Regions from separate parts of the Homo sapiens genome. Here region 2 is linked to region 1. The links come from fine-mapping of genetic effects on gene expression. Tissue or cell type: whole blood. Region 1 holds a variant in brackets; the other region holds the start of a gene. All regions are shown on one strand. Distances are between the middles of the regions.

Evidence for each region. PIP is the estimated chance that this variant, and not a neighbour inherited with it, causes the effect.
Region 2: it holds the start of CA2, and the variant in region 1 is fine-mapped to the expression of CA2 in whole blood (TOPMed, PIP above 0.99). The same link has a PIP of 0.9 or more in blood mononuclear cells.

Annotation. Positions count from the first base shown.
Region 1 is chr8:85,912,442-85,920,550 of GRCh38, forward strand. No RefSeq gene overlaps it. Among named protein-coding and RNA genes, the nearest start is that of LINC02849, 61 kb to the left of the region's middle. The variant A/G (reference allele first, on the strand shown) is at 4,215.
Region 2 is chr8:85,459,205-85,467,313 of GRCh38, forward strand. It overlaps CA2 (carbonic anhydrase 2), which reads left to right and starts at 4,803. Exons shown (of 7, transcript NM_000067.3): 1 at 4,803-4,911; 2 at 6,068-6,265. The coding sequence starts at 4,878. CA3-AS1 (CA3 antisense RNA 1) reads right to left here and starts at 5,711. Exons shown (of 3, transcript NR_121630.1): 1 at 5,378-5,711; 2 at 3,532-3,597. RefSeq lists enhancers at 2,316-3,011, 4,912-5,411 and silencers at 4,039-4,298, 4,369-4,688, 4,799-5,268.

The sequences.
Region 1 (8,109 bases):
TACGCATGAAAAGTAACACATTGTAATGGCTTAAAAATGGGAAAGATAATGCTGTATATTTTGCACATGGGCAGAAAGTATATATACGCACACAGACATAAACACATGTATGTGTTTAATACACAATATGTAAAGGGCTTGGTCAAATTCTCTATAACAAATTTTGTGTAGATTCCTATTGTTATTTTAAAAGGGAGGAAATTATTGGTTTGGGAAGCAAAGAAGACAAAATTAATTTTAGTTAAAAAATTGATTCAAAGGGCCAGCTTATCCTCATAATTATTTTTTAATGTTTCATTCTGGGAAGACTACTACATATTACACTAGTTTTTATGTCGTAGGTAGAAACTTAATTAAATAGCAGTCTCACATATTCAGAATCTGCTTAAAAACAATTAATTTCTTTGTATACATATTTTTTAAATTTACCTGGGTCCAAGCATTATTGAACTCTTGCAACAATAATTAAGCAACAAACTTTAATAATTATTAAAATACCTTGGAACTAATGATAATTGTTCTTTTTAAGCTTTCGGAGCTCCCAAGCCGGAAAGAATATATGTAATTGGCTAAAATACTTACAAGGCTCTGGAGGAATTCTTCTAATGAAAAGCAAGATGGGAGACTTGCATCTATTGAATGGCTACCTTGTGTCAGACATTGTGTTAGGCACATTATCTCACTGAGTCCTAAACTAATCCCTGTAGAACAGGGGTCAGCAAACTATGGCCAAGGGCCAAATTTCACATTTGTAGATAGTTTTATCGTTACATAGCCATACTCATTCATTTACCTATCATCTGTGGCTTCTTTCTTGCTAAAAAGCAGGGTTTAGTAATTGCAACAGGGATCATATTGTCAGGTCCTTCACAGAAAAAGGTTACTAATCCTATTATAGAACATTTATGATTATCTGTTTTTGATGAAGGAATCAACGTTAAATTCAAAAGCACCAAAGCATTAATTTTTCTTCAGAAACTATTGTTGACTGAGAAAATGACCTCAAGAAGTGAACTAGCTTGAGAGATGACATGCTAATGATTAAGTAACTAATATTATATACAACTTGAATGTTTCTATAGTTTTGAAACAATAGGCAATTACCCTTGCGTTCAGATATCATATGAGTTTCTCATTGCTTCTTGAATGAAACAGAATCAGGAAATAAAGATGTCATTTATTGAGTTTGGATAAATGAACTAGAGCTGACATCTGTGAATACAACATTTATTTTTATTTTATTTATTTATTTATTTATTGAGACGGAGTCTCGCTCTGTTGCCCAGGCTGGAGTGCAGTAGCGCGATCTCGGTTCACTGCAACCTTTGCCTCCCAGGTTCAAGCAATTCTCCTGCCTCAGCCTCCCGAGTAGCTGGGACTACAGGCATGCGCCACCACGCCTGGCTAATTTTTTATGAATACAACATTATAATTTAGTCATGAAAATACTCCATTACTTGAAATGTGGATATATGTCAAGAGACAGAAAATAATCACAAAAGAGATTTGTTCTAAGCAAAATTATATGCTGAACTTTTAATTTTTGTTGGTGAGAAGGACACTTCCTCCCTACTCCTGATGCTTCCTTCCATTTGAAAGGAGCTGCACTAGCATAACACCTGGCCTACCTCTGTGCTTTCTCTTTCCTTGCAAAAATCTAATTTTTTCCCACCCATCCTCTATCACTCTGATGCCATGAGTATCTGCTAAGATCTTTGGCAACACTGGGTATGGTGGGTTTCCACTAAGTTGTAAACATATCTTTGTCTGAAATAGTTGGCCCAGGAGCCTGGAGACTGGCTTGTTTTCTAAATTTGGTGGGTGAGTGGGGCCAGTTCTCAGATAGTCTTTTGGGACTGTCAAGTGAGGCATGAGAGATTTGGCTTGAGACAGACTTGGCTGCAGCTGCTGAAGAAATCATAGCACTCCTCAGTCATCGAGAACCATCTGGCTGGGACTGAGCAGAACAGGAAGTTGAGGTGGTTGATGAATTTTGGACTTCAATTCCTGTGAAATTAGCCCACAAGGGCAGTAAGATTGATTATGGATTTGAATTACTTTGGATTTTGAATTTTAGAAACTTTATATTTGGACTTTCATTCTCCTTGACAATCTGATCCTGAGGTTGGGTTTTATGATCAAATGTGGGGCACCTTATTACTATCATGTTATTTTTGGATTAAGTGGTAGATTTGACCATTGTTTCCAACTATTTGCCCAATGAGTTAAAAAAAAAATTAAAACTGGGACTATTGAGAGATCTTTATTTTTCTTTTTTTTAATGTGAATGAAATGCCCTTTTTACAACTCTCCTAGTCTCTATGATTTAATCTGGCCAGTAACTTTTAGAAGCAAAACTGGACAAGTCAAGTTTAATTCCCTCCTCTCCTCTTTCTCTTAGGTACAAGCTACCCATGTGAATTATGCGTTCTGTTCAGCAATTCTATACTGTAAGCTTTTATGGAGTCAACCTTTGCCCCTGTGCAGGGAGGCTGCCCCAGATCTGCATTGCCCATTCCTTGGGGTTAAGATGGTATAAATTCACTTGTGCCCCTGGGATTTCTGAAGCAGAATTATAAGATGAAAAATGTCCTGTGACTGTCACTGTTAAGCACTGGAAGAACAGTGTGACTGTGTGAAAGGCTGTGCTATTCAGTCACAAAGTATCCATCAGTCAATCTTTGTAGAGAACTGTGCAGGGAAGTAGAATGTGGGGACTAGTCATGCAAAAAACAGGATGAGTTTTTCTTGGGATAAGCTGAAGTCGAGGTATTATGAAAAATTCAATGCTAGCAGGGTTGCAGAGAAATAGGAATGCTTTTACACTGTTGGTGGGAACGTAAATTAGTTCAACCATTGTGCAAGATGGTGTGGCAATTCCTCAAAGATCTAGAACCAGAAATATCATTTGACCCAGCAATCCCATTACTGGGTACATACCCCAAAGGAATATAAATCATTCAAATATAAATCATTCAAATATAAATCCATACAAAGATACATGCACATGTATGTTCGTTGCAGCACTATTCACAATAGCAAAGACATGGAATCAACCCAAATGCCCATCAACGACAGACTAGATAAAGAAAATGTGTTACATATACACCATGGAATACTATGCAGCCATTAAAAAAACGAGATCATGTCCTTTGCAGGGACATGGATGGAGCTGGAAGCCATTATCCTCAGCAAACTGAGGCAGGAACAGAAAACCAAACACTGCATGTTCTCACTTATAAGAGGGAGGAAAACAATGAGAACACATGGACACATGGAGGGGAATAACACACACTGAGGCCTGATTGGAGGAGGGAGAGCATTAGAAAAATAGCTAATGCCTGCTGGGCTTAGTACCTAGATGACAAGTTGATAGGTGCAGCAAACCACCATGGCACATGTTTACCTATGTAACAAACCTGCACATCTTGCACAGGTACTCCAGAACTTAAAATTAAAATTAAAATTAAAAAAGGCACATGCAATAAATGAGAGCGAGATGAAGAAAAAAGTCACAGTATGATGGGGTCATCTGCATAACATAAGTGATATTGAAACCTCTAGGGTAGAATAAAAATAATTTAGAAAAAAAGAACATCAAGAATATACACAGAATTGCCCACACACAATACCAAGAGCTTTCGTAACTGAGGAGAAAAAAGCATCAGTGAAGCAGTTCTAGAAGGTTTAAGCAGAAGCAAATAGTAATGTTTCAAAGAGAATTTTCAGGAGAGAGATCAATGGTATAAAAGTGATGTGAAGTCATCAAGCAGCATGAATTTAAAATACGTCGTCAGATTCAACAATCAACGTGGTAATTGTTGAAAAGAAAAGGTACATAGAAATGTTGTCAGGGTCACATTGAGTTTTTCTTATTCAGGCTAGGAGATACCAGAAGATGTCTGAAGATGGAGGAAATGCAAACTAGGAGGAGTTTCCTAGAAATGAGTGGAAATGTTTAGCAGGAGTTGATATTATTAACTATTATCTTAACAAACCTTCAGGCGAACTGCTCTAAGTAATCACTTGGAGCACGTTAGTCGTATTCATTCCTTTTGTGTTCACTGCAGATTTCCAAATAGTAGAAGTTTCTGAAGCATATTAGAAGGGATTATAACCTTTACCATAATTATACAGCTGAGACATATAAAGTATAAACCTCAAAATAGATGTAAACGATCCACATAATCACAAGGCACAACCACTATGAAAAT[A/G]CCACAATATTTTGCAGTTTATCTAAAAGTATCCACATTTCCTGCACTATCGTCTCATTGCACACTAGCAGCTGTTTAAATAATGCTATTTGCCACCTAGGGCACGCTCAATATATTCACAAGGCAAAGTTCTCATAAGTTCCATAAGCAGAGCATTCTTTTTAGCTTTAAACTTAGCTTTAAAGCCTGTAGTTCCTAGGTGCACATATGTCCCAATTTACCTAAACAATTCCAGTTCCTTCCTGTTGTCCTGATGTGATTGTTGATGGCACCCCTTTTCACTCCTGAAAGTGTCCTTGCATGGATGATAGATTGTACCATCACCCTCCTCTTACCTCTTACTTTCTCTCTGTTACACTCCAATGCAAGATCCACTCCACTCAGGGTTCTGTCTGACAAATATATTTTATACCCAATGACATAAAAATAAATATTACAGATTGATAAAAATATGTGGGCTCATCAGAACATTAGAGCTTATTGCTTGAGAATCACTATTCAAGATAAATGTAAAAAATGGCAGAAAAGAGAGTGATGACAGAAACTGCAAAGATGCGGCAGTGGCCAGAAACATAATAAAAATCCTAAAACTGAGGTCCACAATGAAACGAAAAACAGAGTACCTATCAACATTAGAGATGAAAAATAACCTTTACAATGGATTATTATTCAAATTAACTTCTTTAAAAATGCTACCATATTGGGAAAACTGGCTAGCCATATTTAGCAAGCTGAAACTGGATCCCTTCCTTACACCTTATACAAAAATTAATTTGAGATGGATTAAAGACTCAAATATTAGACCTAAAACCATAAAAACCCTAGAAGAAAATCTAGGCAATACCATTCAGGACATAGGCATGGGCAAGGACTTCATGTCTAAAACACCAAAAGCAATGGCAACAAAAGCCAAAATTGACAAGTGGGATCTAATTAAACTAAAGAGCTTCTGCACAGCAAAAGAAACTCCCATCAGAGTGAACAGGCAACCTACAGAATGGGAGAAAATTTTTGCAATCTACTTATCTGACAAAGGGCTAATATCCAGAATCTACTAAGAACTCAAACAAATGTACAAGAAAAAAACAAACAACCCCATCAATAAGTGGGCACAGGATATGAACAGACACTTCTCAAAAGAAGACATTTATGCAGCCAACACACACATGAAAAAATGCTCATCATCACTGGCCATCAGAGAAATGCAAATCAAAACCACAATGAGATACCATCTCACACCAGTTAGAATGGTGATCATTAAAAAGTCAGGAAACAACAGGTGCTGGAGAGGAAGTGGAGAAATAGGAACACTTTTACACTGTTGGTGGGACTGTAAACTAGTTCAACCATGGTGGAAAACAGTATGGCGATTCCTCAAGGATCTAGAACTAGAAATACCATTTGACCCAGCCATTCCATTACTGGGTATATACCCAAAGGATTATCAATCATGCTGCTATAAAGACACATGCACACATATGTTTATTGCGGCACTATTCACAATAGCAAAGACTTGGAACCAACCCAAATGTCCATCAATGATAGACTGGATTAAGAAAATGTGGCATATATACACCATGGAATACTATGCAGCCATAAAAAAGGATGAGTTCATGTTCTTTGTAGGGACATGGATGAAGCTGGAAACCATCATTCTCAGCAAACTCTCGCAAGGACAAAAACCAAACACTGCGTGTTCTCACTCATAGGTGGGAATTGAACAATGAGAACACTTGGACACAGGAAGGGGAACATCACACACTGGGGCCTGTAATGGGGTAGGGGGAGGGGAGAGGGATAGCATTAAGAGATATACCTAATGTAAATGACAAGTTAATGGGTGCAGCACAACAACATGGCACATGTATACATATGTAACAAACCTGCATGTTGTGCACATGTACCCTAGAAGTTAAAGTATAATAAAAAATAAATAAAAAATAAATAAAGAAAAATGCTAGCATATATAATTTTCACAAAATATCAACTTCATAATGTCCCATTCAGGTTCGGATGCCCTCGGTGACTCTTGGTTACCTACACAGACTTAGCTAGACTTGCAGTTTGCACCATTCAGCTTCAACGTCCTTTTCCAAAATCCTCTCTCCCTAATTTGAACTCCTTGGAGAAATTTGAGCTCCTTTTCCTTATTTATTATGGTCAATTGGCTGCATTGCTCATGAGGCAGTGATAAGGTTTCCTAGCTTCTCTGGCCTATTCAACTGTATCTATTCTGCTTCGGGTAACATTCTGCTGCTCAGCGTGATTACTATTTTCTCCTGACTGTGAAGCACCTACAGTGGGGAATTCAAAATCTGGCTGGTCATCTAAGTGAAATGGTACATTTTAAAAAGAAAGCTTCCCAGGCACCATTCTAGAGTTACAGGTTCAATTCTCTGGGGAATAGGATTCAGGAATCTGTACGTTTTACAAGACCTTTACATTGTTCTCACATGCAGGGTCTCTACCACACATTAGTCACTTAATCTGTGCTCCATTATTTTTGTTTTATATGTGCTTCTCAGGTTCACAAATGACCTCTATGTTGCTAAATGCAGCAGTCAATTCAGTTTCTACAAATTGCATTTGATACAGTTTATATGACATATATACCACATATCCACCACACACACACACACACACACACCCCTCCCTCTTCCATACCCCTACCCCAGGAATTTCTACACTTAGCTACATCCTTGTCTCAGTTTTCCTACTACCTCACAAATCACTCCTTCTCACTCACCTTTCCTGGTTTCTCCAGTTCTCCAGATCTTCAGTTTTAGAAGCGATCAAGGGTGTACCCCTTGAATTTTTATCTTTTGTATCCAAATTTATTCCTAGATGATTCCATTCAATTTTATTGCTTTAAATACTACCTCTAGGCTGCCAACTTACAGACCAATATCTCCAAACTAGACCTCTCCCTGCAAGTCCAGGCTTCCATATCCACTCACCTACTTGACACAGCCACTTGCCTAATGGGCACCTCTAGCTCAGCGTGACTGAGGGTGATCTCACCACCCCACCCAGACCTGCTTGTCCATCAGTCTACTTCATCTCATCCTTTGCTCAGTCCGAAAGCTTCAGAGATTTTGGCATTCCTCCTTTCCAATCTAACCCACCAGAAAGTCCTTTCGGATATACTTTTTAAATGTACCCCAAGTCTAATCACTTATCACCCTCCCTGACTTATAGCAAGTCACCATCATGGCTCATCTGGATTCCTGCAGTAGCCTCCCAAATGGTCTCCCACTTCCATCTTTTTCCTTCCCTCTAATCACCACTCTCAGCCAAAGTGATGCTGTTCAGATGGAAGTCTCATCTTTCTCTCATCTACAAAAATAAATAAATAAGAAAACCTAAACAAACAAAAAGCCCTCTAATGCCTTTCTATCTTAGAGTGGAAGCCTGAGTCTTTCTAAGATGGACAAGGCTCTATGTGGCCTGGTTCTCTGTCACCCTGTTATCTCATCTCCTGCTATTCTGCCCCTCATTCACCTGTTCCAAGCCATTCCATCTCCCAGCCATTCCTCCAACATGCCAGGCATGCTTCCTACCCAGGCCTCTTCCCCCAGATATCCACAGGGCTCCCTCTCTGGCCTCCTTGGGTCTTTATTCAAGTGACACCTTCTTCACGGGGCCTTTCTGGGCCACCCTGTCTATAACTTCAACTCCTTCTCCCACCCTTCATTCCCTGTGCTATGTTTCATCCTCAGCACATACTCCTCATCACTATCTAATTTATCTACAATTTACTTATGTTGCTCATTGTCGTCCCCAGTTAGCCAACTAGAATATAAGCCCCACGACAGCAGGAATTTTTGCTTGCTTTTTTTTTTTTTTTGTCTTTTTATTCAGTGCAGTAGCATATCCCATGACCTAATACAGGGTC
Region 2 (8,109 bases), 450 kb before region 1:
AATAAATAGTTGGACCAGGTAACCTCCAAACTTCTTTTAATTCTACAATGATATATTGTTGTGGTTTGTATTATATCCTCCCAGCACATAATATACCTGTGCATAAGCCACTCCCTAGTGGCTTCCCTGCGCAACTAGTATAAAATCCTTTCTTGCTATCATTGTCTGCAAGGCTCTGCAGGCTGTAGCCCCTGACTGTCTCTGACTCCACTACTTGTCTTTTCTTCCTCAGTCACCATGCTTCAGTCACAAGCTTTTCTGTTCTAGAAACTTCCTTTCTCAGGGCCTTTATACTTGCTGTTTCCTCTGCCTGAAATGCCCTCCCCCAGATCTTTTTTTAGTGGTTCCTCAAATGTACTTCCTTCAATAGGTTTTCTATAACCACCGCATCTAAAGTAGGATTTCCTCACTCATTATTCTTTACCTCATTCCTGTTTTACTTTCCTCATACTAATTTTCAGTATTGGAAATTTACTTTTGTTGTTTATTTTGAGTCATTTATTGTACAGTACCCCCATCCATCCCCATGTAAACTCTGTGAGGGCAGGAGTCATGTTGATCTGGTTTATGGCTATAGCCTCTGTGCTGATGCCTGACACATAATAGCATTCAGAATGATTCATTGAGTGAATGGATGATGAGACAAGTTATCTTGTGTAGCTCACCTAGCACATAGAAAATATTAAGCACAAAATAGGAGCTGAGAAACATGTAACGGTAGTAATGATAACTGACATTGATCAAGCTCTAATTATTGGCACTAGGTTAAATCCTTCACACACTGTATCATCTTAGTCCTCACCACAACTCTGTGAGGTAAGTATTATTATTATCCTAGTTTTATAGATGAGGAAACTGAATCTTAGCACAATCAAGAAATTTGCCCAAAGTCACAAAGCTAGTAAATTAACCCAGATTCAAAACCAACCTAATTTCAGCACAATGTTATTTGCTAACTATAATCTGTAACAAAATTATTTACTAACTTCTGCAAAGTGAAACTGCCATTATCTCCATTTGGATTTTTCAAAGTTTATAATTTCAAGGAGTACTATGTGAGTAACTACTATATGTATCTTGGGACTCAGGCTAGGTAAAGGGTACTAGGTGCCTAAGATACAGAGATAAATAATGTGACACAGTACTCAACTTCAGGGGGCACAGTTTAGGAAGAAAAACATAAGCGTGGTAGAATGGACATCTCCATGACCCAAACACTCCTCTGTCCTCTCACAAAAAAAAACAAAACAAAACAAACAAAAAAACACCTCCTGCTGTGGAGACTCATTCCTCTTAAATGTTTCCCATGAACCTGGCCCAGGTGTTTAATTTTGCATTCCTTAAATTATATTCTAACTGTTTAGCACTGTCTAGGAGGGACTGAATAGCCATCATTTACTGAGTGCCTACACGTGACAGGTGATTTATCTATGCTCACTGACTGAATTCTTACAACAATGAGGTGAGTGTCATTATTCCTGCTTTACAAATGAGCAGTCAACAGCTTATTGGGGCATTGGATTATAACCCAATGATTACAATAGAGTGTCTGATTACAATGCAGAATTGCCAATATTAGGATAGAAGGATGTGTATGCAAAGACCTATGGGAGCCCCAAGAAACAAATGGCTCTTGGCCTTCATAGATATTTATTTATTTTTATTTTGTTTGAGACAGTGTCTTCCTGTTTCCCAGTCTGGAGTGCAGTCGCATGATCATGGCTCACTGCAGCCTCAACCTCCTGGGTTCCGATCTGCCGACCTTAGCCTCCTAAGCAGCTGGGACTACAGGGGCACACCACCATGCCTGGCTAACTTCTTATTTTTTGTAAAGATGGGGTTTTGCCATGTTGCCCAGGCTGGTCTTGAGCTCCTGACCTCAAGCGATCCGCCTGCCTTGGCCTCCCAAAGTGCTGGGATTACAGGCGGGAGCCACTGAGTCCAGCCCCAGATATCTACTTAAACACTATAATGGTAACAAATATGAGAATATCTGGCTTTTTATTAGCTTTTTAATTAAATATTTAATAAATAATGTGTATCTCACCTTGTAAAATATTTTAACAATATCTTTACATTTTTTGAGAAAAAGCAAATACTTTCACATTTTTACTAAGAATAATATGTTAGAAGCTTTTTTATTATAATAATTGGAACACAGACTTTAAGTTTTTTTACATTACATTTTCCTGATATACTGCCTGAATTTTTTTTTTTCTGGGGCAAAGAAAAGTACTTTTCTTAAGCTACTGTCAGTTCCTTTACTTAAGATTATTCTGAAATGAACCCATCCTTCCCTCTAATGGAAAGATAGGTACATAATAAGATAAGCACTTTTTTTATTTGAACAAATCCAGTATTAGAGTAGTCTTTTGCAGCTAGTGAATCATGACAGCCTGCTAAGAAGAATGCCTTCAGTAAAATAAAGTTAGGTTGGGACTGACCAACATGAATGCATAAAGTTAACTCCATTAAAAAAAATTGACCAGGAAAATAAAACAATGCTAAGCCAACCACTGTAATACCAAAAACGCTGCTAAAAAATTTAGATTGCTTCTGAGTAACCAAAGGTGAACCACTCTCCACCCTGTGGTGAACATGTGACACTCTCCCTAACAGCAGCTCTGTGGGGAGGGCTTGCTCCCACTGAGAATTAATTCACTTTCCAGAAGTGAGAGATAAGGAAAAATTCCCATGACAATAATCCATTTGGTGAACTGCAGTTTGGTGGTGTTTGAAGTTTTACGCATATTTAAGAATCAAACATGCTCTTACTTCATCCCTGTTAGGAAAGCCACAATCCAGTTTCACGGAAAATGAAAGACAAGGATTCCTGCTGATCAAATCGCCTGGCTCCCTCCACAGAATCCCGGGAAGCCACTCTACATTCACAAACTTTGCACTCAATTCTTGGCACCTATCAACGCCATATCTCCAGGGCCAAGTGAAGAGTCTCATAGCAACTAAGTTAATATTTGAAAATTATGTAAAGAAACAAAATTACATCAATGGGCCCCAACAGATACAATGCACCTACAGAGGCACAAATAAAAGCTTCTTCTTTGCTACAAACTCCATTTTGTAATGGTCCTAAAAATTTAAAAACTTTATTGCTGCTTTCTTGCCTAAGAATTCCCTGTGACATCAACCCAAAACCCACATAAGCAGAAGTACACAATTTTCTAGAATCTTAGAACAAGTAAGTCTAAACATGAATCATATTTGTTTGGATGAAATTGACTGAAATAAATAGTAAAGAGTGATTTTGAGATACATATTGCAAAAATGTCCACTAATAACTTATCCTTGTATTTATCTGTATATTTTCAAAGGTAAGTAATGTGATGTCAAGGCCGACACAATCACATTAAACTGTGTCCTGCTTCCCCAACTGTAACTCTAATACTATTGCCCTCAGAGATTGCAGAGACCACAGAACCGAACTCCTTCCCACAAACCCCCGGATTTTTCTGTGGCAAAATCCCTTGTAGGAAATGAATTCTCTCTATATCTCAAAACAGCCTCACTTACCCAGTAGGCCCTGTAAGCACAGTGTCTCAGGTCCACAATACTTTTAGATGCCCAGGAAAATGTTTCCTTTTAAAATAAGAACAAAAAAGAAAAAAATTAGGTGTTGGTTAAAGAAAATGTTTAAATATATAATATTAAGATATTTATCTTTATGTCAGTGTTGGTATAAATGCGTGTTTATGAAAAAGGGACCCACCAAGGTGAAATGCCGTAGGACCCACAAATGTCATAATGCTGGCTGGCCTCAAAATGTCCTTCCTATTAAACTATTTTGAATGATTCCTAGGTATGCCAGATGCCAATTTTTCTTGGCCAGCCAGGGAACGTCTCATGTCTTTGGAAGAAATTATCTTTCTCTTACTGGATTCTTCTGAGAAAAGTGATTTGTTAAAAGTTTTGGTTATTTCAAATCAATATGTACTCAACTAGGACGTCTCCTCACCCACGTTAATTTTTTAAAGAGGAGGAAAGTAGGAGAAGATGAGCGCTTCATGTAAGGCTCTGCCAGCCTACGAGGAAATGCAATCCTCCAGGCTCGCCCGAGCGTGGGCTGCGGGCAGGGGACTGTGGGGCCGTTGTCTCGTTTTATTCCACGGCCGTGCAGCAGAGGGCGCGTGCCTCTCAGCACTCATGCTGCGCGCTCCCCTGCGCCTCTAGGATCGTATCCCTATTTGCCCCAAGGTCATAGCTCCTAACCCAGCTTGCCAGCCCCAGGCCGGGGACACCAGAGACTGAGCCCTTCGCGCTGGAGACCCCGGCGCGGGTGGGGCGGGAGGGCTCCGGGGCCAAGAGACAGGTCACAATGGGGACAGGGGACGAAAGGCGCCGGGGGTCCGGGTCCCGAGCAGTCCCCGCCGCCGCCAGACTCCGCAGCCGGGAGGGGGATGGGGTGCGCGTAGAGGCTCCGCGGCCCGGGTTGGACGGAGGAGCCCAGGAGCCACCGCAGCCGCCGCACGCCCAGAGCTCCGAGCTTCGCTGCCAGCCCAGGACACCGGGGCCCTGCCGTGGGCCGAGGGGAGCCGGGCGGCGGGAGAGGAGCCCCGGAGCCCCGGAGCCCCGGAGCCCCGCCGGGCGCCAGCCGAGAGGGCGTTTTCCCCGCCCCCGGAGACTCGCCCGCCCGGCCCGCCCCGCCCCGAGCGCGGGGAGTTCACCTCCGCCCGTCACCACCTCCCCTTGTCGCCTAGGTCCACCCGAGCCCCCTCCCCCGGGCCGCCCCCGAGCACGAAGTTGGCGGGAGCCTATAAAAGCTGGTGCCGGCGCGACCCGCGGACACACAGTGCAGGCGCCCAAGCCGCCGCCGCCAGATCGGTGCCGATTCCTGCCCTGCCCCGACCGCCAGCGCGACCATGTCCCATCACTGGGGGTACGGCAAACACAACGGTGAGTGCCGGCGACGGCCAGCGCGGGGGCGCCCCGATCCCCGATCCCCGATCCCCGATCCCCGAGCCCGGATGCCGGCCCGGGGCCCGCAGCGCCCGCACATGCTGTTTACCGCGGCCGCGGGGAGTGCTGGAGGCTCAGGTGCGCCCCGGGCGCTCGCTCCGCTCGCGGCTCCGCGGCGCCGGGGATGTCCCCCTTGCCCCAGCTGCGAGGCCACTGTGGAGGAATCCCCGCGTCCGCCGGAGGCGCGTAGGGCCCGAGGGAGGGGAGGCGCAGCCCTGGCCGCGGGACCCGAGGACAGTCCCTCCCGGGTCCCGACCTGGGGATCATTTTAACCGGACCTAGGAGGAGGCGGGAAAGGGTTGTAACGGAAAATTCTAGTTGTTGATCGCAGAGAAATTAAGAGACTCCCCTCCCCCCTCCCCCACCTTCCACCCCCACCCCACCCCTCCAGCTTCAGCACCACCTGTGGCTAAGGCGCTCAGCACGAACTGTCCCGGGGCATTTTCCAGTGCTGGTTTGAATCCATGGCTCTGATTTCCGAGTTTTCCCTTCATCTCTCGACTTCTAATGTTAGGGGGTCGGACATCAGGAATCGGGTTTTATCTTGGCCTCAGATCTGGTTCTTCGGAGCCAGCGGAGCAGAGGAGCATGCGTCTGGCGCACCTAGCGCATCTTTGGAGGGTGTGGGGCTTCCCAGGTAGTGGGGAACCCTGACGGTTAAAGGTGGGGTGGGCCCGGGCCTGGGCAGTGAGGAAAGGATCCAGACCTCCTTGAATGTCTTAAGTGAGCTTGCATATCCCAAAATCGCAACCACAAGCCCTGACATTAGTGTCTGCCCGATTTCAGTTGCTGAATTTCAGTAAAACGACCTTAAAATAGCTAATATTTATATAGCACTCAGTGATCTAAGAGCTTTACATATATCGATTCTAATTCTTACAGCGACATCTATGAGGTAGATTTCTAATTATCCCATATTACAAATGTGGAAACTGAGGCACAGATTACGTGTTTTCCCAAAATTTAGCCCATTGTTAAGTGATGCTTCTAAAATTGGAACTGAGCAGATTGGCTCCGGAATGATTGCTCTTCTCTAGGGGTCTGGGTGTACCTTTCCCCACAATGGGGGATTCACATGTCTTCTTTCCCCCAGGACCTGAGCACTGGCATAAGGACTTCCCCATTGCCAAGGGAGAGCGCCAGTCCCCTGTTGACATCGACACTCATACAGCCAAGTATGACCCTTCCCTGAAGCCCCTGTCTGTTTCCTATGATCAAGCAACTTCCCTGAGGATCCTCAACAATGGTCATGCTTTCAACGTGGAGTTTGATGACTCTCAGGACAAAGCAGGTCAGTGTTTAGAAAATAACTTGTGTCTTTTAGCCAGTAGCTGTTTTCCGAGCTTAATGGAAGGAGCCAGGAACAGTGGCAGGAACCCTCTTAATAATACAGTTTGTCTCAGGACTCAAGGATGCCACCCTGATCATTTTCATTAGGTCTCAGATTCTGAGAAGTAGGCTAATTAGTTTGAAGTGTCCCGGGGCCGTTTCTTCCCTGTAAAACCCTTGGCTTCTATGAAGGCCATTGAATAACTGCGATATGCCTGTGAAAAATCACAAAAGGTGCAAAGTCCCCTCGCAATAAAGATCAGTCACGATGAGATTTGCACCAATTGAACTTTTAAGATTGTAAAATATTTTGTCTTGCAGAGCTGATGCATATCCATTAAAAAGTATATCTTAGTGAGCCTTATCTTCAAGTTAGCAGCGAGAAGAGTAACAAAAACGTGCCAATTTAAAATACTGAAATTCTGGGAAAATGTTTTACTTATGAGTATTTCTTAGTATTGGGCTAGTGTGATAAAGATGGCAGCATGTTTTGATATCTACTCAGAAATTCATTTCACAAACGAAGATGTTTTAGAGTTGGTGAACATACCTGGCCCATTACTGACAAAACCAATTACCGTATTTATTGGTAATAGAGCTGTTTACAGGATGCTCACTGTAAAAAAAAAAAAAAAAAGAAAGAGAAAGAAGAAAAAAAATCCTGCTTTTTTTTTTTTATCTCTCTCTCTTTTGAAACAAGAGAACAATCCCATTCACACATAGTAGCTGCCTTCTTTGCTAAGCAGTTAATTTAATTGCCAGTGCCCTATTTTCCTGAGTGCTTTCCTCTGAAGGTCATAGAATGAAATGGTGCTGCAAACACATTTTGTTTGGTGGTGGTGTGGGAGTGAGGGGAGTGGTGGAACAAAATGAGAAAGTTTTGGAGTAGTGACCTACGGTACTAATATATTATATAATATGTAATTATAACCATTTAGTCAGGTAGACTATTCTTTGTCAGCAGCTATCCTATATAGTCAACTTGGTTTTGAAAAAAGAATTCTTCCCTCCTTTCAACTTTAAAAAAATTTGCAAACACCTGGCTTTCTGAAATGGTGATTCTGGAAGACAATTTGATGGGGGATAATGTGGAGATCATCTGAGAAATGTTTTCAACCTACCTGTGCCTGTCTGTGTGCACCCCTCCCCAGTACACACATACATACATACATACACACACACACACACACACACACACTTACAATCATACTCACACTTTCTGGCATAGTATGATGATTTATTAGAATCAAGTAAAGGTTGTACATTGAAAACAGTTCGGTGATTCTGCTACATTGCTTTCCCAAGCATTCCTCTCACTCCAAAGGAACAGTGCTCATATAATTAAATTAAACAATTTTTTTCTTGTAAAGAATACTGTATATTTATAACAAGACAAGGCCAAAGGTCTCAAGGTATTACACATACAGAAAGAATACTATAACATTTCACGTCTAGTCATTTACAAACCAAAAGAAGTGAGCTACTTTAGTCTGTAGCTGTACTTTTTTAAAGAGCCACAATGATGTCATTGTTTTCAATGGATGTAATGTCTGCCAAATTATGTATCTCATTGGATGCTACATAGAAATTGGATAGTTTAAGTCTTTTTTGGAGCACTGAAGAAACAAATCTCCAACAAATGAAAGCAGATGAGGTTCCTAATAGTCCTTAAAAAATGGATAGTGAAATAAATTATTCTAGTAATATGTATTACTGGAAAGTGGATTTGAACACATGGTCTGGTGGCTATCAGCATAGACTGGGGTCAGAGAGACCTGGATTTGAGTTCTAGAGCTGCCGGCAACT